Linked DNA regions of Homo sapiens. The protein of the gene in region 4 purifies or fractionates together with the protein of the main gene of each other region. This does not show direct contact. Each region holds a gene or a part of one and is shown on either strand. Other genes may lie near its edges.

Evidence for each region.
Region 1: the proteins of BRMS1L (region 4) and CHD5 purify together in Homo sapiens (affinity purification with mass spectrometry, with the first as the bait; one large-scale study listed by BioGRID). This does not show direct contact.
Region 2: the proteins of BRMS1L (region 4) and SMARCA1 purify together in Homo sapiens (affinity purification with mass spectrometry, with the first as the bait; one large-scale study listed by BioGRID). This does not show direct contact.
Region 3: the proteins of BRMS1L (region 4) and HAT1 purify together in Homo sapiens (affinity purification with mass spectrometry, with the first as the bait; one large-scale study listed by BioGRID). This does not show direct contact.

Annotation. Positions count from the first base shown.
Region 1 is NC_000001.11:6,173,822-6,177,321, forward strand, and holds part of CHD5 (chromodomain-helicase-DNA-binding protein 5), read right to left. Parts: intron 1-3,500. UniProt on the Homo sapiens protein: ATP-dependent chromatin-remodeling factor that binds DNA through histones and regulates gene transcription. May specifically recognize and bind trimethylated 'Lys-27' (H3K27me3) and non-methylated 'Lys-4' of histone H3.
Region 2 is NC_000023.11:129,464,491-129,467,990, reverse strand, and holds part of SMARCA1 (SWI/SNF-related matrix-associated actin-dependent regulator of chromatin subfamily A member 1), read left to right. Parts: intron 1-2,028; coding exon 2,029-2,147; intron 2,148-2,258; coding exon 2,259-2,471; intron 2,472-3,500.
Region 3 is NC_000002.12:171,928,961-171,932,460, reverse strand, and holds part of HAT1 (histone acetyltransferase type B catalytic subunit), read right to left. Parts: intron 1-3,500. UniProt on the Homo sapiens protein: Histone acetyltransferase that plays a role in different biological processes including cell cycle progression, glucose metabolism, histone production or DNA damage repair. Coordinates histone production and acetylation via H4 promoter binding.
Region 4 is NC_000014.9:35,864,338-35,867,837, reverse strand, and holds part of BRMS1L (breast cancer metastasis-suppressor 1-like protein), read right to left. Parts: intron 2,904-3,500; coding exon 2,839-2,903; intron 2,117-2,838; coding exon 2,077-2,116; intron 1-2,076. UniProt on the Homo sapiens protein: Involved in the histone deacetylase (HDAC1)-dependent transcriptional repression activity. When overexpressed in lung cancer cell line that lacks p53/TP53 expression, inhibits cell growth.

The DNA of each region.
Region 1 (3,500 bases), on a different chromosome or scaffold from region 4:
AGTCCTCGAACCTCCCCCCATGAGACAGGGCTTATGCTGGCAAAGGGGGGCAGTACACCGCCCAAGAGAGGATTCATAATTTATTTATGACATTTAACAAAACCCAGACATCACCTCATTGGTGTCACATCAAAAGAAAGCATCAGTCCTGAGTGGGGAGTGGAGGGAAGAGACGGGGATAGATGAGGCATTTACCCCAAGTGACTGGGGCCTGGGGGGAGTCACCCTGGGGGTGCAGGGAAAGCAGGGAGAGGCCCAGGGCATGGGTGGGGAGGAGGAGGACAGAATGGTGAGAGGGGAAGTCAACCTGGGGGGACAGGGAGGGACAAAAGAGAGAAAAACGGCCAGACAGAAAGGGAGAGGCAGGGGCATGACCTCAGGGGAGACGAAAACTGACAGATATGGGGACAGAGGGAGAGAGAGAGACAGGGAAGGAGAGTGAAATAAGGACAGAGCCACAGAGATAAGCAAAAGCCCAGAAAGTTAGACAACACACATTGTGTTCAGTACCCAGCTCAGAGAAGATATTCCAGAAGTCTCTGATGGGTGGACGGATAATTGTATAGTGAATGGATGGATGGTGGATAGGTGGATGGATGAATGCATGGTGGATGGATGGTGAATAGATTGATGGATGATGAATTGATGGATAGATGGTGGGTAGATGGATGGATAGATGGATGGATGGTGGGTGGATGGATGGATGGATGGATGGATGGCAGATGGATGGACACTGGACGGATGGTGGATGGGTGGATAGTGGATGGATGGTGGATGGGTGGATGGACGAATGGATGGTGGATAGATGGTGAATAGATGGATGGATGATGAATTGATGGATAGACGGTGGGTGGAAGGATGGATGGTGGATGGGTGGATGGATGAATGGATGGTGGATGGATGGTGAATAAGTGGATAGATGGTGAATTGATGGATGGATGATGAATTGATGGATAGATGGTGGGTGGATGGATGAATGGTGGATGGAAGATGGAGGATGGACGGATGGATAAATGGATGAATGGATGAATGACGGATGGATGGATGAAAGATGAATGGATAGATGGATGGATAGATGGTGGGTGGGTGGATGGATGGATGGTGGATGAAGGATGGATGGTGGGTGGGTGGATGGATGGATGGTGGATGAAGGATGGATGGATGGATGGATGGATGGCAGATGGATGGCTGAATGGATAATGGATGGATGATGGATGGATGGTGGGTGGATGAATGGTGGATGAATGGATGAGTGGATGGTGGATGGATGCATGGATGGATGGTGGATTGATGAATAGATGGACAATAGGTGGATGGATGGATGGCAGATGGATGGATGGTGGGCGGATGGTGGGTGGATGAATGAGTGGTGGATGAATGGATGAGTGGATGGTGGTTGGATGCGTGGTTGGATTGTGGATTGATGGATGGATGGTGGGTGGATGGATGGATGGATGCATGGATGGATGGTGGATGGATGAATGAATGGATGGTGGATGGATGAATGGATGGTGGATGAATGGATGAGTGGATGGTGGATGGATGCATGGATGGATGGTGGATGGATGCATGGATGGATGGTGGATAGATGAATGGATGGATGACGGGTGGATAGATGGATGAATGGTGGGTACAGGAATGGATGGATGGTGGGTGGTGGATGAATGGATGGAAGCATGAATGGTGGATGGGCAGATGGATGGATGGTGGATGGGCAGATGGATGGATGGTGGATGGGTGGATGGTGGATGGACAGATGAATGAATGGTGGATGGATGGATTGGAGGATGGATGAATGAATGGTGGGAAGCATGGACAGATAGTGCATGGATGAATAGTGGATAAGAAGAACAAGAACAAATGGATGGATGGATGGATGGATGGATGGACGGACGGACGGATGGATATACATATGGATAGATAGGTGGATGGTGAATGGTTACTTGGTTGGTTTTGTGGGTCGACGGGTAGATGTGGGAGAGCAGGTAGATACATGGATACATGGATGCATGGATGGATGGATGGATGGTGGGAAGCATGGACGAATAGTGCATGGATGAATAGTGGATAGGAAGAACAGATGGATGGATGGATATGGTATGGATATGGATTGATAGGCGGATGGTGAACGGTTACTTGGTTGGTTTTGTAGGTGGATGGGTAGATGTGGGTGGGTAGGTAGATGGATGGATGGATGATGGGTGAGCGACTGAATGAACTGATAAAATGATAGATGGATCCTATTACCTGATCAACTTGGAATGACAATGAATAACCCACTGGCCAAGCCACTGGGCAAAGTGTGCTGGTCATTTTGTCTCCCTCCTCCCAGAAAAGAATGTTAAATACAATCAGGCTCCCTGGGACCCCCCTACCAAACCATGCTTCCACAGGGGTAGGGGTGCAGGCTAAAATGTCATGGCCTTTTGGGAATCATGACTGTCACTCTCTCCTGGCCCCTGGACCTGAGGAAGCAAGCCTAAGATACTTACACATCTAGGGCCAATTGTCACTGGGGCCAGAGAGGTAACGGTGCCTAGTCCAGACATTGCCCATTCTGGGCTCACTAGCTTTGTCTGTGATTGAGGAAAAGCTGGGCCAATGAGGCAGGGAATTTGCCAGCCCAGCAGTGGCCCTAAGAGGGCTGAGAGCCACATTTTCTGAAGCCCTCTCCTGCTTCCTGCCACCCCTACCTTGGGCTTCACAGCCCTCCTCCCACCCAGGCTCCTACTCCCCTGAGCTTACTGGCTAAGGATGCAAGTATCAGAAGCATTTCCTTGGAGAAGGCAGGACAGCTGCCCTCCTTGGCTGGTGCTAACTACACCAGCCACAGTTTATTGAGCACCTATCATGTGCTGGGCACTGTGGCCTAATGTTCCACATGCACTGTCTCACTGTTCCTCATAATAACCCTCTATGAGGTAGCCAGTGCTATGTCCCCATACTACAAGTGGGCACACCGAGGAGAGGGCTGCCTGGCTTGTCCAAGACCACTCAGCTAATGCTCAGAGCTAGAAGCCAAGGCCTCATCCCACCAGCTCTTGACCCCTGGCTTCAACCAGCCACCCCAACTCCCAGGAGAATCTGGCAACTGCTGGTCCCCCAACCAGAAGAGGCACCCGCCCTGCCTTCCTCCTAGAAGCTGGCTCAGACACCTGCCTCAATGCCAGAGCTGGCCAGGGCAAACCTCCCCCTCCCCACCATCACTGCACGGGAAACAATAATTCACTGCTGAGAGTGAGCAACTCCCAGGGGGAGGTGGGAGATGAGCAGAGTCAAAGAAAAAAGATCGGACAAGTCATGAGTTTAATAGCCGTAGACTGAAAAATCATCATGACAGCTTCCAAAACACTAGCTCCTCCAGCCACAAACTTCCATCTTTTGGAACCAGCTGGTTCTGGTCTTTGGGGGTCACCGCCACTGAGCTTGGACTCAGGGCTGCATAGGGGCTATGAGGAAGAGCTCAGGGTGAGTGGGGGGCCAGCAGTGCGACTTGACAG
Region 2 (3,500 bases), on a different chromosome or scaffold from region 4:
TATATGTAGTACATGGGACTTTTCTAACTTCCAAATAGGTTCAGCTCTTAAACTTATCATTTGAAACAAGATGTTTAGAATCTAGAGCATTTTTTGTCATTGAAACAATGGCAAAGTAGGTTTAAGTTTACAAAGTAGGTTTAAGTTTCTATGATAGCCCCTGCCCCAAATCTATTTAACCCTACCACTGAAATTCTGTTTTTGCAATAGTAGGAAAGAAACATTACAGTACCAATAAATATACTAAAGATTAATAATAGCTAGGAACAGCTTTTAATTTATCTAGCATGCTAGTGCTTGAAGAAATCCAGATTTAATTAGAGAGATTTTTTTTTCTTCTGGAAATCTAAAAGAGTCTTCTGGGGGACTTCAGAGGTCAGTTGTATTGAGTTTTTATTACATATAATATAACATTAAGTATATGAACTTCCTTTTCCTTCATACCAGCATGATATTACTATTACTCTGAACATTTAGCACATAAATTTAGGGCATTTGGAGGCTTAGGGGAAAAAATAGATTGAAGAGAGAAATTTTAGCATCAAGAGTTGAATGAAAAGAATGTAAAAGGGTATGTGCAGAGAGATTTTTAAGAAGAATTTTTTTCAGAAGATAGGCAGGGAGATAACATCGGTGTATGTGAAGTTGCAAGAAAAAAATGTGATTTAAAAAGATGATCCTGTCAGACTTTCTTTCAAATTTGACACCAAGCCAGGTGGCATGACTAGCTCAGGACTATTTAATTGCTGCCTGCCAGGTTGGGGGCCATGTCACAGGGTGAGGAGATTGCAATGAGTTTGTTGTAGTTGGTTACAGTAAGAGAAGAAATGTGTACAATTGACCACCCATGAATATACAGTATCCTGTACATAGCAAGTGTTTAAATATTTGTTGAATGAATATGTGAGTGAATGAGTAAATGAACACAGGTGCTTATAAAAATCAGAGTGCTCACATACCTTTCTTGATAGGCTCTAAAAATGAAAAGCTTGAGGATGTGGAGTATGTCATTAAAAGGCCTTTCATTGAAGTCATGTGACATATTAATACAGCCAGATTATTTGGCTCATCTATAAAATTTGGTTGAGTGACTTGGAATGTTTTTCAGTGTGTATGCAATTAAAATCCCAATGAGGTTTTTTTTTTTTTTTTTATGAGAAAAGGGTATTCCAAGTAAGTTTAAAAACACACTACTGGTCATTGGAAATACCGTAAGATGATTAGTGAGTGATTCCAAAAGCAAATGACAATTTCAAGAGAAATGGCTGCTCCATAGAAAAAAATTTGAACAACCTGTTCATAATAGCTTGGGTTTTTTGTTTATTTGTTTGTTTTTGAGATGGAGTCTCACTTAATCGCCCAGGCTGGAGTGCAGTGGCGCGATCTCGGCTCACTGCAACCTCCACTTTCCGGGTTCAAGCAATTCTCCCGCCTCAGCTTCCCGAGTAGCTGCGATTACAGGCACGCACCACCATGTGCAGCTAATTTTTGTATTTTTAGTAGAGATGAGGTTTCACCATGTTGGCCAGGCTGGTCTCAAACTCCCAACCTCAGGCAATCTGCCCACCTCAGCCTCCCAAAGTGCTGGGATTACAGTGTGAGCCACTGTGCCTGGCCCATAATTGTTTTCGCATGCTAGGAAGCTATATTCACTGTTTATATATTACTCTCTCCTGTGTCACTTTATGTGTTTGGTCCCTTTTCTATCATGTTTGAGTAAAAAGCCTAGCTTAAATCAGTATCTGCATCATCTTTTGAAATCCTAGTCATTTGGGATGGATCGTAAGACTCCGTACTATTTCATGAAGGAAAATTGCTAACCTAAAACCTTGTTTTGAGGTCTTATTTTTAAGTGAAAAGTTAGTAGTATTTAATAATTTAACATATTATATATATAAGATTAATCTGAATCTTAATTTTAAGAAGTACAAGCTCATTGTATTCTTTCCTATTAATTCCTTATTCTACAATTCCTTGGATTTATTTGCTTAAATGATAGGATTTTAAAGAAATAACTCTGTTTTTCAGCTGTATTTTGGGAACGTTGCAATGAATTACAGGACATTGAGAAAATTATGGCTCAAATTGAACGTGGAGAAGCAAGAATTCAACGAAGGATCAGTATCAAGAAAGCCCTGGATGCCAAAGTACTATGTTTTATGTCAAATTATTATTAGATCGTTTTAATTGAAATAGTGGTCAGCTTTGACTTCTTACTGCACATTCAATTAAAAGCACTATTTTGTTTAAATACACAGATTGCAAGATACAAGGCTCCATTTCATCAGTTGCGCATTCAGTATGGAACCAGCAAAGGAAAGAACTATACTGAGGAAGAAGATAGATTCTTGATTTGTATGTTACACAAAATGGGCTTTGATAGAGAAAATGTATATGAAGAATTAAGACAGTGTGTACGAAATGCTCCCCAGTTTAGATTTGACTGGTTTATCAAGTCTAGGACTGCCATGGTATGTATTCCTTTCTTACCGATTTCCTCCAACTTTTTATTTTGAAAAATTTCAGATGCCATATATCCTTCACCTAGATTCTCCAATTAACATTTTGACACATTGGCGCTCTCTCTTTCTCTCTCTCTGTGTGTATGTGTATACATACGTAGCACCTATATATACGTGCAGAATCTATATTTTGTATTAAAAAATACGGGGACATCTATATTCTATATTCTGAAATGCGTATCTATATTTTATAAGTATACTTAACTATATTTATGAACCATTTGAAAATTACAGACAATGTGAGTGTTCATCTCTAAATACTTAAGCATGTATCTCCTAAGAATAATGACATTTTCTTACATAACCACAATCCCACCTGAAAACATTGATTCAGTAATGTCATTTAGTATACAGTCTATGTATAAGCTTTTCCAGTTGCCCCCAAAATGCCCCCTTTATAGCTGTTTTTTTTAAAATTGATGATCCTGCAAGTTTCACACATTACATTTCGTTGTTGGGTCTCTTTAATCTCTTTTAATCCACAACCTTTTGGTTTTCGTGATCATGACTTTTTAAAGGTGTCCAGGCTAGTTGTCTTGTAGAATGTCCCACATTGTGGATTTACCTCATTACTCATTGTAAGATTCAGGTTCAACGTATTTGGCAAGAGTGCTGTGGAAGTGATGTTATGTATTTTTTATTGCATCCCATCAGAAGGCACATTATGTCATGTTGTCACACTGTTGGTGATGCTAAGTTTGGTCACTTGTTAATGTGATGATCTTCAGAGCTCTCCGCTTTAGAGTTATGTTTTCCCCTTTGTAATTAAGCAGGTTATGCTTGAGACTATGCGAATGACTTAAAGATGGACTTTTAATGAAAAGGAGTTGTTGCCTAAGTTGAGTTTTTTATTAGGAAACAGAATATTTAAGTTGAAGAGATATTTTATTTTAGCTTATGTGATTTCCTCCATTACTTTCTAATGTGAATTGTGTTCCTATTCTAGTCCTACTTAGCAGTGGTGTTCATGATGATTTT
Region 3 (3,500 bases), on a different chromosome or scaffold from region 4:
TCAGAACAGTATTAAATCTATTTATTAGATGTATAGTTAAAAACCTTCCAACAAAGAAAACTCAAGGCACATAAAACTTCACTGGTGAATGCTACTGAACATTTAAAGGAATAATGCAGTCTTATACAAATTCTTCCAGAAGATAGAGAAGAAACAGTTCCCAACTCATTTTATGAGGCCAGGAAACCTTGATACCAAAATCAAGCAAAGACGTATGAAAAAAGAAACCATTACCTGTCATGAACAAAGAGTCTTAACAAAACATTGCCAAGTCAAATCTAGCAAAGCAGAAAAAGGATAATATACTGGCATGCAAGGCTAATTTAACACTTAAAACCTCATCAATGTAATTCACCACATTATCAGAATTAAAGGAGAAAAATCTTATGATTATCTTGATAAAGAAAAAGCATTAGAAGGTAACACTTTCATAATAAAAACTCTCACCAAACTAGGAATAGAAGGAAACTTCCTCAACCTGATAAAGGGCACATATGAAAAACCTACAGCTAACATCATAGTGAATGGTGAAAGGCTCAAAATTTTCCTTCTTCAATTGGGAATAAGGCAAGGATGTCTACTCTATCACTTCCATTTGACATTGTAATAGAGGTTCTGGCCAGTGCAGTAAGGCAAGAAAATGAAACACAAGTGGCTCTCCACATATGCAGGTTCCACATCCACTGATTCAACCAATTACGGATCAACATGAGATTGGCTGAATCCTCAAACACAGAATCTGCAGATACAAAGAGCTGACTGTACTATATGGCTGTTTTTCCCCCCCGAGACACAGTCTTGCTTTGTCGCCCAGGCTGGAGTGCAGTGGCACAATCTCGGCTCACTGCAACCTCCACCTCCTGGGCTCAAGCAATTCTCCTGCCTCAGCCTCCCAAGTAGCTGGGATTACAGGTGTGTGCCATCACGCCCAGCTAATTTTTGTATTTTTAGTAGAGACGGAATTTCACCATGTTGACCAGGCTTGTCTTCTCGAACTCTTGCCTCAGCCTCCCAAAGTGCTGGTATTACAGGCGTGAGCCACCATGCCCGGCTATATGGCTATCTATCTATCAAGACAGGGTCTCACTCTGTCACTCACACTGGAGTGCAGTGGCACAATCACAGCTCACTGCAGCCTAGAACTCTTGGGCTCAGGCAGATCCTCCCACCTCAGCCTCCTGAGTAGCAACTACAGATGCACACCATCATGCCTGGCTAATTCTTGTATTTTTTGTAGAGATGGGGTTCTGCCATGTTGCTCAGGCTGGTCTCAAACTCCTGGGCTCAAGCAATCTGCCTGCCTCAACCTCCCAAAGTGCTAGATTACAGATGTGAGCCACCATGCCCAGCCACACTATGGCATTTTGTATAATGGACCGGATCATCGGCAGATTTTGGTATTCACGGGGGATCGTGGAACCAAATCCCTGAAGATACCAATGGACAACTGTATAAGGCAAAGAAAAACTGTGACTTTCTTCATTAACAGGTAATGTTTGTGTGCAGGAAATCTGAAATAATCTACATCTAAAAAAAAAAATCCTATAGCTGGGTGTGGTGGCTTATGTCTGCAACCCTAGCACTTTGGGAAGCTGAGGCAAGAGGATTGCTTGAGCCCAGGAGTTCAAGACCAGCATGGGCAATATAGTGAGGCCCTGTCCCTAGAAAAAAAAAAAAATTTTGCCAAGCATGGTGGCACGCACCTATAGTCCCAGCTATTCAGGAGGCTGAGGTGGGAGGTTCGCTTGAGCCTGGGAAGTCAAGGCTATAGTGAGCCACAATCACGCCACTCTACTCCAGCCTTGGCAATGGAGTGAGCCACTCTCTCAGAAAAAGCCCAGAATACAAAAAACTACAATAATAAGTGAATTTAGCAAGGTTGCAGAATACAAAACAATTACACAAACTGTGCCATTGTGTGTCCATGCATATGCACATGCACACACATAAAACAAGCAATTGGAAGAGAAAATGTTTAAAGTATATCATTTTTAGGTCAGGCACAGTGGCTCACATCTGTAATAGCACTTTGGGAGGCCTAGGTGGGCAGATCACTCGAACCCAGAAGTTCAAGACCAGTCTGGGTAACAAGGCGAAACCCTGTCTCTACAAAAAATACAAAAATTAGCCAGGCATGGTGGTGTATGCGGAGTCCCAGCTACTCGGGAAGCTGTGGTAAGAGGATCACTTGAGCTCGGAGGCAGAGGTTGCAGTGAGTGGAGATCACGCTACTGCACTCCATCCTCGGTGACAAAGTGAGAACATGTCACACATACAAAAATAAATAAATAAAAAAGTATACCATTTTTAAGAGCATCAAAAATCAAAAGATGTAGATTTACTCAGATAAATTTAACAAAATACATGCAAGACTGAAAACCTGAAACATTTCTAGAATACAGAAATACATCATGTTCATATACTGGAAGGCTCAATGTTATTAAGATAGCAATTCTCCCCACATTCAATTTTAGATTCAATGTAATCTTAAGATTAGTCAGAACTTTTTAAATAGAAATTAACCACCTGATTCCAAAATGTATACAGAAATAAGGTCAAGAATAATCGAAACAATCTTTAAAAAATAAAGATGTGGGACTCACACTACCAGGAATCAATAGAAAGTTACACTAATCCAGACAGTACGATATTGACAGAAAAACAGACAATGAATGAGAAAAGTCCAGATGTAGATCCACACGTGTAAGTTCAATATTTTTTTGTTAAAAACGCACCAAGGCATTCACACAAATTATACTGAAACAAGTGGATATCCACATGGAACAACAAACCTTAATCCCTTTCCTCATATTGGACATGAAAAATAACATGAGATGGATCATGGACATAATTTTAATAAGCTAAAACTAAAAACCTTCCAGAAGAAAACATTAGGAGAGCTTCATGATCTCCTTGGGGTAGACAAAGATATTAGGCATGAACCAGAAAACACTAATAGAAATTTTTAAAATTAATAAACTGGACATGATTAAAACTAAAAACTTCCAGTTATACAAAAAAAGTTGAGAATATGAACAGGCAAACCACAAACTGAGAGAAAAATGTGCACAAAACATGTAATCTGCATAAAGGACTCATCCAGAATATGTAGGTAAATAACACCTACAACTAATAACAAAAAGACAAATAACCTAATTTTAAAATGGGCAAAAGATGTGAATACATGAGTCCAAAAGGAGATAGTCGATAACCACATTAAAAAAACAATCCTTAATAGCATTAGTTATGAGGGAAAAGACAATTAAAACCTATTTAATCTTTACAACCACTATGAAGTACTATTAACAAAGAAATACTACTATAAACCCAGTAGAATGCCTAAAACTTTAAAAACTGACAACATAAAATGTTGGTGAGGATATGGAATAACGAAAATTCTAATACACTGTTGATGTGAGTATAAAAGTACTTTGGAAGTCAGTCTGGCCAAGTATCCCATAAAGTTAAACATACAAATACCCTATTGACCCAGCAAATCC
Region 4 (3,500 bases):
TAACAATTAACATCAATCCATGCATATGTAAAAAAGGCCTAAAAATATTTCTTAAATAACAAACCTAAAATGTAATAAAAAGATTTATTCCTTACATTCTTTTACATAATCACTAAGTTTTTAATATAACTACTAAACAAAGCTAAACAATGAACAATAAATCATCAATTGACTAATTAAGTACCAGAAGGGGAAGCAGGTATGTTATCAATTACTAGTGTGAATTTTAAGTAGTATTTAAAATATCAATTGCCATATTTCAATTGAAAATTATACTTTTTATTTTTTCCCCTGCGGGCATCTGATATACCGAAAGAAGCAGAGTTTAATACATGTTCCAAGCATTCCCCAGGCTTTTAATTCTAAAAAGGAAATGTCCTAAGTACAACTTCTATTTTTAAATTCCAGAAATCATCTGGCATTAGTCAGATAACTCATACAGGAAAAAAAAATCTTTTTTATGGAAACACAGTGTCAAAAGCATACCATGAAGTCATTCAAATGTCAGCTCCTGAGAGGTCTTCCCTAACTACTCTACCCACTCCTCAGCTAATTGTTATATCAACTGCACAGTTCTTTTAGAGTAATTATTATAATCTGTAACTATCTTCTTAACTGTTTATCTACATATATATGATTCCACCTCCCCTAAAGAGGCTCCAGGAGATCCATATTTCTTTTACCATTGTATTCTCAGGGCCTAAAATACCATCGGGTATATTCATTCATTCATTCATTCATTCATTCAACAAATGTTGTCTGAACACTTCCTATACACAAGGAAGTATGCTGGGGAAAAAACTGTGACCAAAAGAGATATGGTTCTAGCCTTTGTGGAGCTTACAATCCAGTCAGGAGATAGACAAAATTAAAAAGTACAAATTGAGTGAAGTGCTATGAGTAAAACTAATAGGATACAATGCTGAAGATAAGAGTGGGAGGGAGACACACTCAACTATGATAATGAGATTCTCAAAAGGAATCTATTACCCAAAAATGTTAAGAACCACTGCTCTACAGGTCTAGGCAGCTGCTCTGGCAGTTAATTCCCCAGGGCAAATACTGCTGCAATTTCCTCACAAAATAAAAAGTTTAAAGGAATCATGGGGTTAAAAATAAAATGCAATTTTTTTTTTCTTAGAGATGGAATCCTGCTCTGTTGCCCAGTGTAGTGGTGTGATCATGGCTCACTGGAGCCTCGACCTCCAGGGCTCAGGTGATCCTCCCACCTCAGCCTCCCAAGAGGCTGAGACTACAAGTACACACCGCCAAGCCTGGCTAATTTTTGTATTTTTTTGTAGAGATGGGGTCTTGCCATCTTGCCCAGGCAGATCTCAAACTCCTGGGCTCAAGTGATCCTCCTGCCTTAGCGTCCCAAATTGCTGGGATCATGCTAGGCATGAGCCACCATGCCCAGCCTAAACAGAAATTGGTCTCTTATCGATTACTTAAGCTGTTTAAATGTGACTAGAAATTCCTTTCCTAAGTATTTCAAATATGTTTTTCTTTTTAGTCTAGCTTCATTGTCCTTAGAAGGATTAGGAAATCTCACCTATAGTGAAAGAAGGCAGAAACAGAGAAACTTATCCTAAACACCATCACATTTTGGCAGTGATTTTAGACTTCCAAAAAAAAAATCAAGGAAGTGTAACTTGATATGAATTTTACTAAGGCATATCAGCATTCTGATCTCTCTCCTCAGAAAATGCACATGCAGAATTTTGCACATAATTTCAGAGGATTCACAGAATCTCTGAAGCCAATCCACAAATTCCAAATACCTCCCCTATAGAATGACAGAGCCCATAAAAAACACTGCATAAATACTTTTTTGAGTTACTGATCCATTATTAGCAATAAGAATGTAGCTGAACACTGAAATAATTATACCACATTCAGAAATTTTGAAACTTTTACGTGAAGCAATGACTCCAGAAGAATTCCTCATAATTTCAGGCACGGTGTTCACTGATGAAATAAAACCACTGATTCAAGAGTTCTTTAGTACGTAGATAACAACCCTGATTCAACAAGTCTCCAAAGAGAATATTTCCCAACTCAGACTAAATGACTTACGTTCCGTTTTCACTCTGTGTGGCCCCAATGTAGCCATTGCCTTAATTAAAAAAAAAAAAAAAGAGGAAGAAAGAAGTCTGAGTTCAGACTGAAAATATATTTTGGTATCTATTTAATATATACAATATTACCGATTAACTCCATAACAAAGACAGTAAAGTATAACCATTAGCTGCTCTAACAAATTTTTAATGTCTAAGACCATAAAGAATATGAGGGATAACAATTTCTCCTAGAGGTGTTTTCAATACCTGAAATAATCTCTAATTCTCAACTAAGAAATTTACAAAAATGAAAAAATGTAATATGGAAAACAAGCCTCCACTTTCAGGCAAGAAAAGAAAAGCCTATGATTCTTGAATGTTTAATGATAGGATGCAAGACACATAAGGGTTCAAATGTTCTTTTGTTCAACAAATATTTATCAAGTGTTTTCTATAAGCCAGGACCAGCCAAAGGACTAGGCACAGATGGTGATGTTATTATTTTTGGGCAGACTAAATAAATGTTTTTTGGACTTTTCCATAAATTATTAGTTACATTATTATAGAAAAAATACAATCAAACTGCTGACATGTCTCTAACTCTTAAAATATCCTTGTAGTTCACTGCTATCTGTAATAGTATTAAATTGCCTTAGAAAAATGTTGCAAAAGCAAAGCATATTTACAATAATATTTTGATGTACTAACAAAAAAAACATAGAATCTTAAAAAGTAGACTATAAAAACATACTTGTGTTCCACTGCTCATTAATCATACCTTCCTAATTGTTGTCCAGTCTTCAAGAATATCAAGATCTTGTAGCATATAAACTATATATGGACGTTGAATAGTCAAGGTCAATTTAGCTGTAAGAATATCACACTTTGAATTATATTTCCAAAGTACTACATTTCAGAAAATGGAACGATGATTTATGAGCATAATGCTTTGGCATCCTAAATTCTGACTTCAAATTATTCTTCAAACCACTTAGTACCAGCATAAATACAGTCTAGTACTTCTGATGTCATAACTACATGCCCTTAATTCCATGATATCATTGATTGTAATATACATCACTAACACAATCACTGGTTTTTAAGGTGGAGGGGAAAAGATGGGGGTAGAGGGATGGTACCATAGAGAATGCCGAAACTGAATATACGTATTAATTTACACTCCAATTTTGGAAACATTTAAAAATGTTTTTAAAAAGTATACGAGGCTAGGCACAGTGGCTCATGCCTGCAATCCTAGCACTTTGGGAGGCCAATGCAGGCTTAAGCCCAGGAGTTCAAGACCAGCCTGGGCAACACGGCAAAACCCCATCTCTACAAAAAATACAAAAATTAGCCAGGCGAGTGGCACGTGCCTGTAGTCCCAGCTACTTGGGAGGCTAAGGTGGGAGGATCACCTGAGCCCGAGAGGTTGAGGCTAAG